2 separate regions of the Homo sapiens genome follow, and region 2 is linked to region 1. The links come from fine-mapping of genetic effects on gene expression. Tissue or cell type: whole blood. Region 1 holds a variant in brackets; the other region holds the start of a gene. All regions are shown on one strand. Distances are from middle to middle.

The links. PIP is the estimated chance that this variant, and not a neighbour inherited with it, causes the effect.
Region 2: RAPGEF5 starts here. The variant in region 1 is fine-mapped to the expression of RAPGEF5 in whole blood (TOPMed, PIP 0.94).

The regions. Positions count from the first base shown.
Region 1 is chr7:22,441,621-22,449,287 of GRCh38, reverse strand. All of the region lies in intron 4 of STEAP1B (STEAP family member 1B), which reads left to right. Among named protein-coding and RNA genes, the nearest start is that of STEAP1B, 55 kb to the left of the region's middle. RefSeq lists enhancers at 1,143-1,212, 1,223-1,272. The variant C/T (reference allele first, on the strand shown) is at 3,739.
Region 2 is chr7:22,353,410-22,359,742 of GRCh38, reverse strand. RAPGEF5 (Rap guanine nucleotide exchange factor 5) reads left to right here and starts at 2,589. Exons shown (of 26, transcript NM_012294.5): 1 at 2,589-2,913. The coding sequence starts at 2,683. RefSeq lists silencers at 2,444-2,833, 2,894-3,123 and an enhancer at 3,244-3,313.

The sequences.
Region 1 (7,667 bases):
ATGGAGATCAGGGGGTGGGGATGGTTAATGGGTACAATAAAAATAGAAAGAATGAATAAGACCTACTATTTGATAATACAACAGGGTGACTATAGTCAATAATAATTTAATCATACATTTAAAAAATCTGAAAGAGTGTAATCGGATTGTTTGTAACACAAAGGATAAATGCTTGGGATGGGTACCCCATTCTCCATTATGTGATTATCACATGTTGCATACCTATATCAAAACATCTCATGTACTCCATAAATACATACACCTACTATATACCCCTAAATTAAAAACTTAAAAAATTAAAAAAATTACAAATGGTACTTGTCTCTTACCTTACCTAGTCCCTACCAGATACAATGCTTGGCATGTCTAACTTGCTCTTGCTTGCTTGTTCGTGTGTCCCATGGCCCCTCAAGGACCTTCTGTGCTTTTGGCTCCCAGGGAAGCAGCCTTCCAGCTGGGATATGCTAGATTGGGTGTATCTCAGAGAATTAATTTCCATATCCCAGACTTCCACATGTACTCTTTCCTAATAAGATTGGCCTCAGAACATGCCTGCAGGGAGATATCATGAGAAACATTCTTTTTTCCCATCTTGCTTTCTGTGTTCAAAAAAAAAGTATACCTCTCCTGATTTTATGCTGCATTGTCTAAAGTTGTCATATTTATGTTGTTCTGAATAATTTCTTCATAATTTTAATGATAAGCCAATCCAGAAGAAAAATTTTAACATCTAAAGTCTTAAGATTATAGCAAATTAAAAAAATTAATTTGACTAATATTATTACTACACAGAATTATAATAGAATGATAACATATTTTTAAGCGTGAGGTCCCTTAAAAATGAGGTAATATTGGGGAAATGAAATGGAAATATGAGTTCAAGGAAAAAAGTTCTATTAAAAGATCATTCATGTATTTTAAAATTTTAGATGATAAATATATCATTTCTATCTATATTCCTTTGGATAATGGAAAAATATAATTGGTATCTATATTCCTTTGGCCATATAGAAATGCATTCATTAACATTTTGTTGTAAAGTGTCAATATTGACTACGTGCCATAATTACATCTTTGCAACTATTTTAACACGGGAAGGGAAACTTGAAGTCTCATCTGAAAAAGGTTCAAGAGGATATGTAGGTTTCTAAAATTGTTTTAGGAGATATGAGAGTAAACAATGTTGCCTCGCTATGATAAACCATAGATGAATAATGACTAGATGAATGAATAAGCAAACCAGCAACTGAAAGCAAGAAATCCCTTCTAGGGTAAATACAACTGAAAGCAAGAAATCCCTTCTAGGGTAAATGAAACCAATATGGGTTGCATGACGTTTATCCAATGCCTTCATGTCTTTGCATCTCAATTGCTCATCTGTAAAAAGGAGATGGTGATAACTGTTTGTGAGCCTTAGATGAGGTCATGCATGTAAATGTGCTTTGCACCTGGCAGGTCCTCAGTAAGTGTTTGCCGAAGTACTAGGTGGCAATGCAATTTGGGTATATCCATCTCTTCCTGTCCTAAGGGATGCTGGTCAGTGTACCAGAAGTAAAACAAATTGGCTTCTATGGCTGCACACCAGGACAGGTCTTGATTACATGAAGGACCTTACTAAACACCCTTCCATCCTAACAAAAATATGTGGAGCATTTGACCATTGCACAGGGATGAGTTCCCACTTTACTCCCACAAATGTGATTTGTGTCAGCTTTGCCCTACAAATGATGTGTTTGTGGACATTCCATCTTTGGAATCTATTAAAACAGTCATTGTCAAGTATTTATTTAGAGTCAATAGAACTACTATGTATTATATAAAATATAAAACACAGGCAGCATGCTTCATGCCAAAGTGGTTACTGAATCTACTCTTTTATAAATATACAATATTGACTGATCTTCCAACCAACTGAATTACAAGCTGACCAGTACACACACAAGAAGTCATTTCTTTATAACAGTTGATGACAGGCCTCTGTCACCAAACTGTATTGGAAGTTGGCCTGGCATTTAATAAGCAATGGTGACCAATTAAGGAAGTGAAATGCTTGTGCAAAGTGCCTAATATAATAAGGTTTTTGCCCATTACTGAGACATCAGTGATGTCCCAGAAGAGAAAGTGACTCTGGTTACAAAGTGGAACCAGGCCATGCTAAATTAGAGCTGCTTCTATACTAAGGCTACCAGTCATCTTTAACATCAAGAGTGCTCACTGAGCTCTTCAGACATTTACCCTAAAACAAGAGATGAATTTTAAAATGAGTCTTTTGATGCTCTCTGGAGAGCAAACCCTTAAGCTATATTCCTATAAAAATTAAGAATCTCATTCCAGACCCCAATTAAACTAAAAAATATTGTAGAGAGAGACAGAAAAATCAAGTTTCTACAATGTGCCAGCCACTGGCTAAGTGTTTTCCCAGATACTGTCTCATTACTCTTCACAGCACCATTGTGGGGTGGGCAGCATTCCTTCCATTTCACAGATGAAAATACTGAGGTTCAGGGAGGGTTCAACTTGGGACCAGGCTTGAGTCGTTTACCTGAAACAAAACCCACATTCTTTCCCCTTCACCTTATTAACTCTAATCTTGGCTGAAAAAAGTGAGTGCTCAGAAAAATAAGGGTTATAGAAGTGAGATTAGCATTCATATTCCAATGGAAGTGTCCATCAGAGTGGTTCTAAATCTTGGCTACGCATTGGAATTGCCAGTATTCCAGGGTTTGCACAACTTGCTTGTAAGAAATCTTAGGGCAGTGTTTATCAACCTATAGCAGGCTTCAGAACCACCTGGAGGTTTGTTAAAACAGATTTTTGGGCCCTGTCCCCAAAGTTCCCGATTCTGTCTTTCTGGGGTTGGCCTAAGAATCTGTATTTCTAACAAATTTCCTGTGGCTCCAGGTTGGGGACCTCACTTTGTGAACCACTGGCATAGGGCATTGTCTTGCAAAGCGCAGTCCTGTCCCAGAGTATCCAGGTTGGAATTAGGGACTCAAATGCAGGTTCTTGGCCCTGGCCCAAATCTATAGGATCAGATCTCAGAGGGTAGGGACCGGGGATCTGCCTCATAAACAAGTGTTCCAGATGATTCTTTCACTTGCAGAAGCATGAGAACTGTCATCCAATGGGTCTTTGAACTCCTTCATCTCATATACAGCCCAGCTTTTAAATACTGTCACATTTTGAACGACAACTGCACAGCAGAACTGCATTTACAGTTGACCATTAGCTGCTGCTGTGACTTGCTTCTGGTTATTTAAAATGCCCACAAGGGATCTCTTAGCCCATGCTTCATAAATAAAGCCCAAAGAAGAAATATTTATTCATTCATTTTTTTAAAAACTCTCCAGTTGTCAAGTTTCCGACTCATCAGGGGGAAAGACTGATTAGTGGTTGTTTCATGCTTCCCCACACAAGTGAAATCAGGAGGAGAAAAGCATTCTATAAAAGAGCTTATTTCCCTTCCTCTTCGCCTCTCCTGCCTCCTCATTTACCCTTAGCTATTCAGTTTCATCAGCCCTTGTGAGAATATAGCTCTGACTTTGAGTTTAAAGGGGTTGGGCTGCTTGGAGAGCAGTGCCCTCCCTGCTGCTCTTGCATCTGGGAAGCTGGATCACCACGGGGACTTCCCCCAAGCCGGAAAAGGTCGACCAAATCCCCATTCAGAGGTGGAGGGCGGGAAGCCAGGCCCAGGCTCGGATGTACCCTGAAGAGGTGCAGGTGCTTCCCGCTGGCCTC[C/T]GCCCCTCAGCTGTGGGCTCCCAAGTGAAGCTGGCTGCCAAGAGGAGTATTTATAGCTGCCTTTGCTGGCCAGTTCCTGCCCGGTTCTCACAAGGCTGCCGGCAGATCCCAGCACGACTGGCTGACAAGACGAGGGGAGGATGGGAGGCCCAAAGGGGCATGGCCCAGCTGTCCTCCCTGAAGAGTTGCAGATGTCAGTCCCCTTGATCTGAAGTTAGAAATACAATGCGGTTTACAGGAGGAAGACATGAAGGTCATGTGAAGAGATTTCTCGCTGTTCTTCCACGGCTCCAAATCTGCTGTTGGCCCAAGAGAACCCACCACAAAGAGGTCTGTGCTGTCATCTGCAGAGCTGATTTGTAATTACTCTGCTCATAATGCAGAAAAGTCTAGAAGCTCCCTCAGCCCCTGTTCCCAATGCCAACCCTGCCCAAAGGCCCTTTAAACTGAAACCGGCATCATTGTCCAAATTCTTCAGGTGAACCTGTCTTTAGAAACAATGGCCCTTTCTCTTTCTCATCCTCTCACTTAGGCCTCTGGGTTAGAGAAGACGACTGATCTAACAGCTCTCCTTGTGCCACGCGGACAGACCCAGAGCTCGCTCTGGTGACAGCAAATGCACACCTTGTGGGGGTGTCCAATTGTTGGCTTAGTGGGTCTCCAAACTCACGAAATAGAATACTGGGGAGCCCATGAAATACCTGATTGGTTTTTCACATGGGTAGGCTCCATACAGAGCACAGCTCATCAGCTAAAACCTCCAAGGTGAAATCATTAAATCTCCAGGGGAAAACCAACAAAACAGCAAGTGTTCCGGAAAGGGTTTCACTTCCTAACTGGCAGCGAGCCTGAGATCAAAACCTGTTACTCAGTGACAGATGAAATTCCTGCAAGAGGCACAATCCATGCTATTGTTCTGTCTGAGGCCCTTATTTCTCCCAGGGTTGCTGCGAGTGGCCAAGGCAGAGGCTCCCGGGCAGCCGATGGGACATTTTCTCCATGGGTTTGAGTAGTGTGTCTGCAAAGAGTCCATGGTCCCTGGAATCCCCATGATGGGTATAATTTCAGAAAATTCATTTCTGAAAGCAGAAAGGAATTTATATTTTCTTTTTACTTTTTTTTTTTAAAACAGGGAAACAGGCAAAATAGAAGGACGCATAGTTAGAGGTGATTGAAGTCAGGGTAACGGCTAGAGCCAGGCAAACAAGAATAGTCCTCACCAATCCTGCTCACGCCCTCTCAAGCTGCCTTGCACAGTGCTGTGTGCTTTCCATATGTTATCTCATTTAGTCCTCACAATAGCCCAATGAGGGAGGTACAGGTACCCTCACTCCTTTGCAGCAGAGGAAACTGAGGCCTAGAGACGTTAAAGGTCTTGCTCTTTGTCCTAGGATGAGGATGGCAGATTTGGAATTCAAACCCACTCCCTCTGCAGGGATCCTTTAACTAAAGCCCTGAGCGTGACTCTGTGGAGAGACAGGCCCACTGGCTCTGGGCTTCTCCAAGAACTCATCAGGCTGTGGTGGTCTCTGGCTTCCTTATATCACACAGATGTGGAGAAACCAGGGCAGTGGGACTCAGCACCCCCTGAGGGTCAGTTTATGGGGACAGCCTCTTGGGCTGGACATCACCTTCAGCTGGACCTCAGCTCCTTCTCTGGCCCAGAGCTTGTTCAATTGGGTGATTTTTGTGGCACTTTATGTAGGTCAAAGTCCTGGTGGCTCCAGCCGAGTGGAAGTGTTTTTGCCTGGCTCTTAGGTGATGGGGCAGGAGGGAGCTGAATGCAGAAAAAGGAGCTGGCATGTGCCAGCTACCATGACAGCCAGCAATGCTGTGCTGTTGTCCTGCCATCCACGTGCAGTTTCCTTTCTCCGATGACTCCTGGTGGGAGGAACTGACTATGTACAGTGTGCAAAGGGCATAGCAGTGGCGGAAGTTATGTTTCTTGTAATTGGAGATCTTTGTGGTCTGGAATGATCATTTTGTGTGTTTTCTCATCAGATAGGATAGATTGCTTTAACGTTCAGCCACACCCAGAGACAGCTTTTCCTTCCTGGACTACCCATGGTCTTTCATTTTACAAGTTGCTTAGATGAGATTTTCACTTACGTCTTCCTTGTTTACTGTTATAGCTCTAAGGTCCAGCACAGTTCCTGGCATACAATGGGTGCTTAATTAATACCTATTGAAGTGATTGATTAAATGAATTCCTGAATAAGTGAATCAGTTACCAATTAATCTTGGGTCCTTGATTCCAGAACATACCAAAGAACATGATACTAGGATTTTCTCTGGGTCTTTAAAAAGGAATGTCACTTTTCTTGTTGTTGGGAAGCATGTCAGTTTGGGTCCTGCAAGAAGCAGATGGTAGAACAGAGTTGTTCCAGGAGATTTATTGTGGTAAACACCTGCGAAAGATGAGGAGGAAGCAGGATTAGGAAAGGAAGATCACTATGCAGATCTGACACTGGCAAACATGGGAAAGACAGGCAGGAGCGAGTGGGAGGGAAGGAAGGAGCCTCAGACTGAAGCACACTGGCTGTCCCCAGGGCGTGCTGGAGCTGCTGGAGCCATCAGCTTTTTTGATTGCCAGGGAAGGGGGTAGGGGTGAGCCTGGTGTGACAATGGTTGTTGCTATTTCTTCTCCAAGTGATGTCTTCTCATCCTGTGTTCCTTCCATCCAGGGGGCAAATGTGTCTCCATCACTCCTATTTCTTTCTGGGAGCACTGCCAAGTCCTCCTCATTGTCATGGCGGCAACCCAGGACACCCTGCCTCTCTCAGCCTTGCCTCATTTTCTCTTTTTAACCCCTTTCTCAATGTCTCAAACTCAGCAAGCCCAAAGTCACTGCAATGTGTTCTTTCCCCTGAAAATGTTCTAAGATTCCAACTCTGTCAAAGGCATCGTCAGGTCCTTTGTCAGATCAGCACCCAGCATTCCTTTACACCCTCCCCCGCAGTTCCTCTGCTGACAGCTCAGCCACTCCACCATCCCCACCTCCAACCCCAGGTATTTGGGAAAGAGCTCTTCAAGACTTGACTCCTGTCCTTGAGGCCCAACTTGCAGGCCAGGCCTGCCGTCAGGGCCTAATAGGACAGGTACACAACATCCTGGTTTTAGCCAAAGAGAGTATCCGGTTTTTAGTGGCTGAGTAAACAGCCCAGATGAGGAGGCCACTGTTATTAGCTGGGAGAAACACGTTTGTCGTCTTGACTTCTTGCATCTGGCAGTTGGTGTGCTGTGTAAAGAATCATGTTTACTTAATGTCAGTCACTTTCCCTTGAAAACTGCTGGTTCCAACTCAGAACCTTTCAGTCCTGGGCTATGAATATGAAGCTGTGTGGTAGGCACTTCCGCTCACTGCAGTCTTTTTACCCATCATTGTTGCAATGAGCACCATTGCCCTCTTCATCACTCATTCATTCATTTGGGTTTTATTCATTCCACAAGTACTTACAGAGAACATTTACCCAGAAAGGGCCATATGGGAAGTGGGTAGGAGCATAGGAGCATGGACTATCCAGCCAAATCCCAGGGTGGCCAAATCCCACCCAAATCCCATGGTCTAGAATTTGGGACCTGCTGACTAAAGAAAGAAAAGTCAAGCTTTTAAAGAATTAAAGCTAGTTTTATTCAAAAGTCTTACTGAGGCCTGTAGGCCAGGAGCACATCTGTCAGACTGCTCCAAAGCAGTATTTCAGTTCACAGTTTATATACAGGTGGTGAAGCCGCAGTATGTGCAAATTCACATCACAGTTGGGGTGTAAGAGTACGTCTGGTTATAGATTACTAAAAAACATTTGGTTATACATTGTAGAAGCATAACCACTAACCCCATCAGACATTATTTTATGTGTAGGAAAAGGCAAGGACTAGGGCCATTTATTTTAAGGAATACAGTGACTCAGGCAAGAGATGTGGGGGGCCAT
Region 2 (6,333 bases), 89 kb after region 1:
AACAAAGTTAAAAATTCAGTTCCTCAGTCACCCTAGCCATGTTTCAAGTGCTCAGCAGTCACATGTGGCTAGTAGCTGCAAAACAGATAACAGAAAATGTGCATCATTGTAGAAAGTTCTGTTGGACAGCATTGCAGAGGACTCTCATTCCAGACAGGGCACAGCGAGTATAAAGGTTGCTTGATTTGAGTTAAACAGTGACGTGGCTCTTCTGTGTACACATCCTACTATTCCCTGTTGTTTGCCTATTTTTATCCTGAAGCTAAATGGCATTTGTCATTTATCACCTTAACCTAAACCAATTTTCCAAAGGCCCTTCTTGAACTTTAGACGCTTGGTCTATCCCATAGAATCTAAGGAATGCTGGCCTTGCATTGAGCAACTGTGTGAATGGGTTTGAAGACCAGGAACCTGGACCAGGAGACGGAACACGTGTTCTACTTTGGAGTAGAGTAAGTTCATGGTATGATTCAATGTTGTCATTGGGGTGATGGGGCGCAAGCACCCACTAATCTGAGTGTCCTGGAGGGCTTCTAGTGGGCCAGGTGTTCACCCTTTAGTTGTATGTCATGGGGAAGTTGGAGGTATGGGGGTGAGTGGCACTCTGGGGCTCAAGACAACGACCAATTACCAACTGGAGCTGCAATATCTTAACACTGTAAAAACGGATAGAGTCTGACATGGTAACATACAAATGCAATTTCAGCCTTGGATAAATGCATGTGATAGGTATTTGGAAACTGTAATGGACTATGGAGTCCTATTATAAAGTCCTTTCCAGTTAACACACACAGCTTAAGGTGACAGGGTTTAAGGCCTTCTGCAGTGTGTTACTAGCATCCATTCTGGTATCTTCTCTTACTTCTTCATTATGTCATCTTTCCCTTCACTAGCATGACATATTTTCAGTGCCCAGTGAGTTCTGTGTGATACCACCTTTGTGTTTTTCTCATGTCTTTCTCTCTTTTTTTTTTTCTTTTTTGAGACGGAGTCTCACTCTGTCGCGCAGTGGCGCAATCTTGGCTCACTGCAAGCTCCGCCTGCCGGGTTCACGCCATTCTCCTGCCTCAGCCTCCCGAGTAGCTGGAACTACAGGCGCCCACCACCACGACCGGCTAATTTTTGTATTTTTAGTAGAGACGGGGTTTCACCTTGTTAGCCAGGATGGTCTCGATTTCCTGACCTCGTGATCCGCCCGCCTCAGCCTCCCAACGTGCTGGGATTACAGGCGTGAGCCACCGCGCCCGGCCTCATGTCTTTCTTCCTTACTTGAAGGACACCTACCCTCCTTCTGCCTGGTTGAATCTTCCCCACTCACCCTTAAGGTGCAGTTTAAACTTCCTTCCTTTCGTGGATTTAGCTTTGCCCATCCCAGGCCAGAAGCATTTCTCTCTCCTGTGGCCTGAAGTGGTCTTACCTACACTTACTTGGCAATTAGCAAGAGTACAAGTGCAATATCTTTGTTTTTCTGGATGTTTGTCTACTCCTAGGTTAAGTCTTACCTTCCTTAAGGGCAGAGGTCACAGTTCGTTCCTCCTTTTTTGTTACATGGCATGTTTTTATACATATTTGCCAAGCACCTACCATGTGAGTGGCTGAGGGCACAATGGTAAACCAACTCTGGACCCTGACCTCCTACGATTCTTGTCATTTTTTAAAAATGTGAATAAGCTTATTCAACTTTTGTAAGTCTTAGACAAAGATGGGGATCCCAGCGCCCCACTGATGAGAAGTCAACACCCTGGCTGGCCCTTGTTGAAGACAGATTGAGCTGAGATGTGAACATTCACACTCCCTGGCGTTTAAGGCACTGCTGGAATAGTTTCACTCTCAATGATCCAGAATTCCTGCCTCCTGGAAGGGTGTAAACAATGATTCACACCACGGCAGGCCTTTACAGTTCACCAAGCACATTCATCACAGCAGCGGGCTTTCAGGGAAGGTCAGGTTCTGACATGCTAACAGAGATTCACCTTCAGGTCACCAGACTTGCAGCTACTCTGCTCAACACCTATCATAACCAACAAAAGTTTTCTCCCTTCGTCCTTTAAGGATGCGTGTGCCAAGAAGGGTCGGCGCAAAGCAATTTTGCCTCATGGTGTTTGCCTTGTAGCGTGTCTATTTTGAAGTTCCTTGGCCAAAACAGTTCCCAGGAGTAAAGATTACGATGAGGGGCCAGGCTGTGCAAAACGCGCGGGAGGGCGGACGACTCTCCAGCACACTTGGTTGAAGTCCAAGTCAACCCCTGGCTATTCGAAGAAGTGAAGCAGGACTTTTCAGCCTAAGGGGTAGGGGGACAGGGACAGGACAGAAGAGCGGGTTTGCCGGAGATTCTGGGAATTCTGCACCTGTGGATGAGCCGGTGCCCAAGGTGCCCTCTTCCTCCCGGGTCCCGAGTGGGAGATCCGAGGGGGACAGGTCCCAGGCAGCTTTCGCAGGCGAAAGGGCGGGGCGGGGCGGGGCCCGCGCACCTGGGCGGGGAGGGGAGGAGAGAGGAGGGGAGGGGAGGCGCGCGGGGCTGAGCCTCGCGGGGGCCGCGGCGCGCGCCAATGGGCAGCGGCTGGCAGCGCGCCCCGCGCCCGAGCCGCAGTCGCGCCCTCTCGCTTCCTGGCGAAGGCGCGGACGGCGCGCGGAGGCGAGCGCGGTGGAGAGGAGCCCCCGGCGCCGCAGCGCCGTCAGGGCATGAGGATGGCCGTGGGCTCCGTCAAGATGCAGCCGCCGTGCGAGAGCCCGGCCCTGGCCGCCGCGGCGGCGGTGGTGGCGGCAGACGGCCCCCTGCGCCGCAGCCCCAGCGCCCGGGAGCCCGAGCGCGAGCAGCCGCCGGCGTCGCTGCGGCCGCGGCTGAGGGACCTGCCCGCGCTGCTGCGGAGCGGGCTCACGCTGCGGAGGAAGCGGAGCGCCGCTGGGGGCCGGGTGAGTGGCCCGGCCCTGTCCGAGTGGGCACGGGCGGCGCGCACGTGGAGCCCGCGCCCACCCCCCGGGCCGCTGAGGGGGGCGTCTGGAAGTTGGGGAGGTGGCGGAAGGGACGCCCTTCTGCCGGACTCGGCTGAAGAGGGGCCCGGGACGGCGGGTTTTGAGGTGCCACCCCCTGAGCGACGGCTTCCCCCGCCCCCACACCTCCCCCCCACCAGGCTGCACCTGACTTAACCCCAGGGCCCCCAGATTCAGGCTGCGGGACCGGGCATCGGCTGAAGACGAGCTGTTTGCCTCTTCTCGGAGGGGAAGCTGCAGGTGTCCAGCGTCCAACAGCCAGCCAGCCCTGTCCCAACCGCAAGCTTCAGGCCCCACGAGCGGCATCCCTGTTTGCAGGACGCATGCGACGTGTGTGCTTGTTTTGGAGGTGCTGTTGCAAGCTCTGGGCATCGAGACTGGTTTTGGTGGTCTCCACCGCCGAGGGGCAGACCCAGGAGTCGGAAGCTCTTGGGTGAGCTTCCAGTTCCTGGGTTCCGGTGTCTCCAGCACTTAATACTCCTGGACACCCTCTTGAGCAGGAGGGTGCACGCCCCCAAGAACCTTCAATATTGACTTCCTGATGGTGTGTTCAGATACGATTTCCTGGTGAAGGAGTGTCCCTCATTGAGTTCTAAGTGCATCTAATGACCTGAGCAGGTCAGGCATGTTTTGTATTTTTAAGAGAAGCAGGAAGGTCTGCTGATTGTCTCCTGGGATCTTTAAGAAGCCACCTAGGAGGCCCCGCCAGGGCCTCAGGACACAGAGCTGACTTACTCAGATTTCCCTGCTCACCAGGGTTTGGCGGCACCTTTGGTGGGTTCTACTCATCTTTTAAAAATTTATTATTAAGTGGTCTTTAATGAGAAGCTGCATCAATGTGGTTTTTCTTTCCCGTTTGGCTGTAATTTTTAAAATGCAGTCTTGTCTGACTTAAAACAAGACCTTGCTGGGAGACTTCTAGCTCTTTCAGAGATGGGTTTGTGTAAACTTGAGAGTGAGGGATAACCACTTGTTTTCATGCGCCCTCCTTTGGGTAGGGAAGGGTCTGAACTGATGTCGGTCTTCAGCTTCTCGAGGCTGCATCTCTCTTTTCCTAGGCATTTTCCATCTCAGGTGGAAAATGGTCCATCCCAGGTCCATCTCAGAAGATGTTCTGAGGATTCTCTGTGTGTGATGGGACATTCTTAAAGTCGGTGACCCAGAGAGTTTAGGAATTGCCCACAAGTGACCTTAACATGTGTGGCATTTAGGATTGCCTGCAAAGTAAGTGAGGAAATGTGTCCCCAAGATGTGGTGTCGGAATAAACAAGAACTGGAGTTATAGACTTTGCAGGAATCCAGGGAAAAGTAGGTCAAATTATGTTTCTATTATCCTTGACGGTTACTTTTTCATGGCACAGAATACTGAAGACATGAGGGCTGCCAGGCAGTCTGCGACAAGAATTGCTGAGGGTTTCTGTATAAATAGATCTATAGTATTTATTTGCGTTCATACTCATGTTTCTTGCTGCCTGGGAGGGTGTCGTATACCTTGTCAATATACCTATTTAGTTTTATTTTTTAATTACTCTGAATGTGGTTACCTCAGATAATGTATGCTTTATTAACCCTCTTTGATTCTAATACTGTATTATTTCTTTTTGGGACTTTCCAAACACATTTCGTAACTGCATAGCCAGTTTTTATTGAAGGAAGTTTGATTGTCAGTTTTTCCAGTGTTGGAAACCCATACTTTTTGACTATTTATTTGACTGTTTATTTCCCCTTTCTTCTGCCTTGGAACTACCTTTGTGATTTTGGAATCTTCCCCATCAAAGGAGTAGGAAGGGGGTTGAAAGAAGGAGAAAAACAAGTGAAATATGAACTTGTCTTAGGCAGCTCAGGCTGTCATAACAAAATACCGTAGACTGGGTGGTTTAAACAACAGGAATTTATTTTCTCACAGCTCAGGATGCTGGGAAGCCTGAGATCAATGTGTAGGCTGATTAGGTTTCTGGTGAGGGCTCTCTTCCTGGCCTGCAGATGACCACTTTCTCGTATATCCTCTCATGGCCTTCCCTTGGTAAACGCAGAGGAAGAGAGGGCTCCCTCTTCTCATAAGGCCACTAATCCCATCATGAGGGCCCCACCATCATGACCTAGTCTAACCCTAAATAATTATCAAAGGCCTCATCTCCAAATAATGTCATGTTTGGGGTTAGGGCTTCAACATAAGAATTTTGTAGGGGGCATACACTTAACAGTCCAAAACACAGGGGGTTTGAAAGAAAGAGAGATACAAGTAGAATATGTATCAGACTGGTTGGTTGGTGACTTGTTAGCATCTGGGATTGTCTGGTTAACCACCTTGGATTGGGCAGTGATGCTAATGCAAACAAATCATGGCTTGGATCTTTTTGTAGACCTTCAGCTTTGTGTCTCATGGGCCATACCTCCAGACTGGAGCTGCGTGACTTCAGGGATAAGTTAACAGAAATCCATTACCACTAGTAAAGACACAGCTTTGTGCATTACATGAGTTAGTTGAGTTTTCATCTCCTATATTGACCAAGATCTGATTTAGGAATATGTGTGGTCCTTATCCATGCTGCCCTGGGCTCCCACAAACCTGGACAATCTGACATCAACTGACATTAACAAAGTTCTTTGTGGGTTGTGTTGCTCAACCCAGGTGCATTATAGGCTTTTTTTGTTGTTGTTGTTTTGTTTTGTTTTTTTTCTGAGACAGGGTTTTGCTCTGCCACCTAGGCTGGAGTGCAGTGGTGTGATCATAGCTCACTATAGCCTCGACCTTCTGGCTCAAGCGGTCCTCCCACCTCAGCCTCCTGAGGAACTGGGATACAGGCACACACCACCATGCTTGGCTAATTTTTTTTTTCCTATTTCTTTTAGAGACTGGGGGTCTCACTACGTTGTAGGCTATCTGTTACTAGGAAAAAATCAAACTGCCATTTGGTTAATATGCCTGAGTTCCTTGGTTCCTCAGTTCAGTCACTTCTAGTTGTGTTGAATTCAGCATGCATACTGGTTAAGACTCTTTGCACTTCTTTAAGACAAATGAGGGAAAGACTAAGTTGTACATTGTGGGAGGGCCCTAACTACCTCTTAAAAATCAGTAGCAAAGTAATGCACAACCTGAGTTCCTGACAAAACCCTTTAATTTTTTTAATTGTATAACAGAGATTATGAGAGAATGGTATAATGAACACCTGTGCTTCAACAGTTATTAGCATTTTGCCAGTCTTGTTTCATTTATTTTCCCCCTCCATACACTTTTGTAGGGGCTAGTGCATTTTAAAACAAAATTCCGTACATCATGTTGTCTTACTCACAAATTTTTCAGTTTACGGTCCTGATAAGGACATTAAAAACAACAGCAAA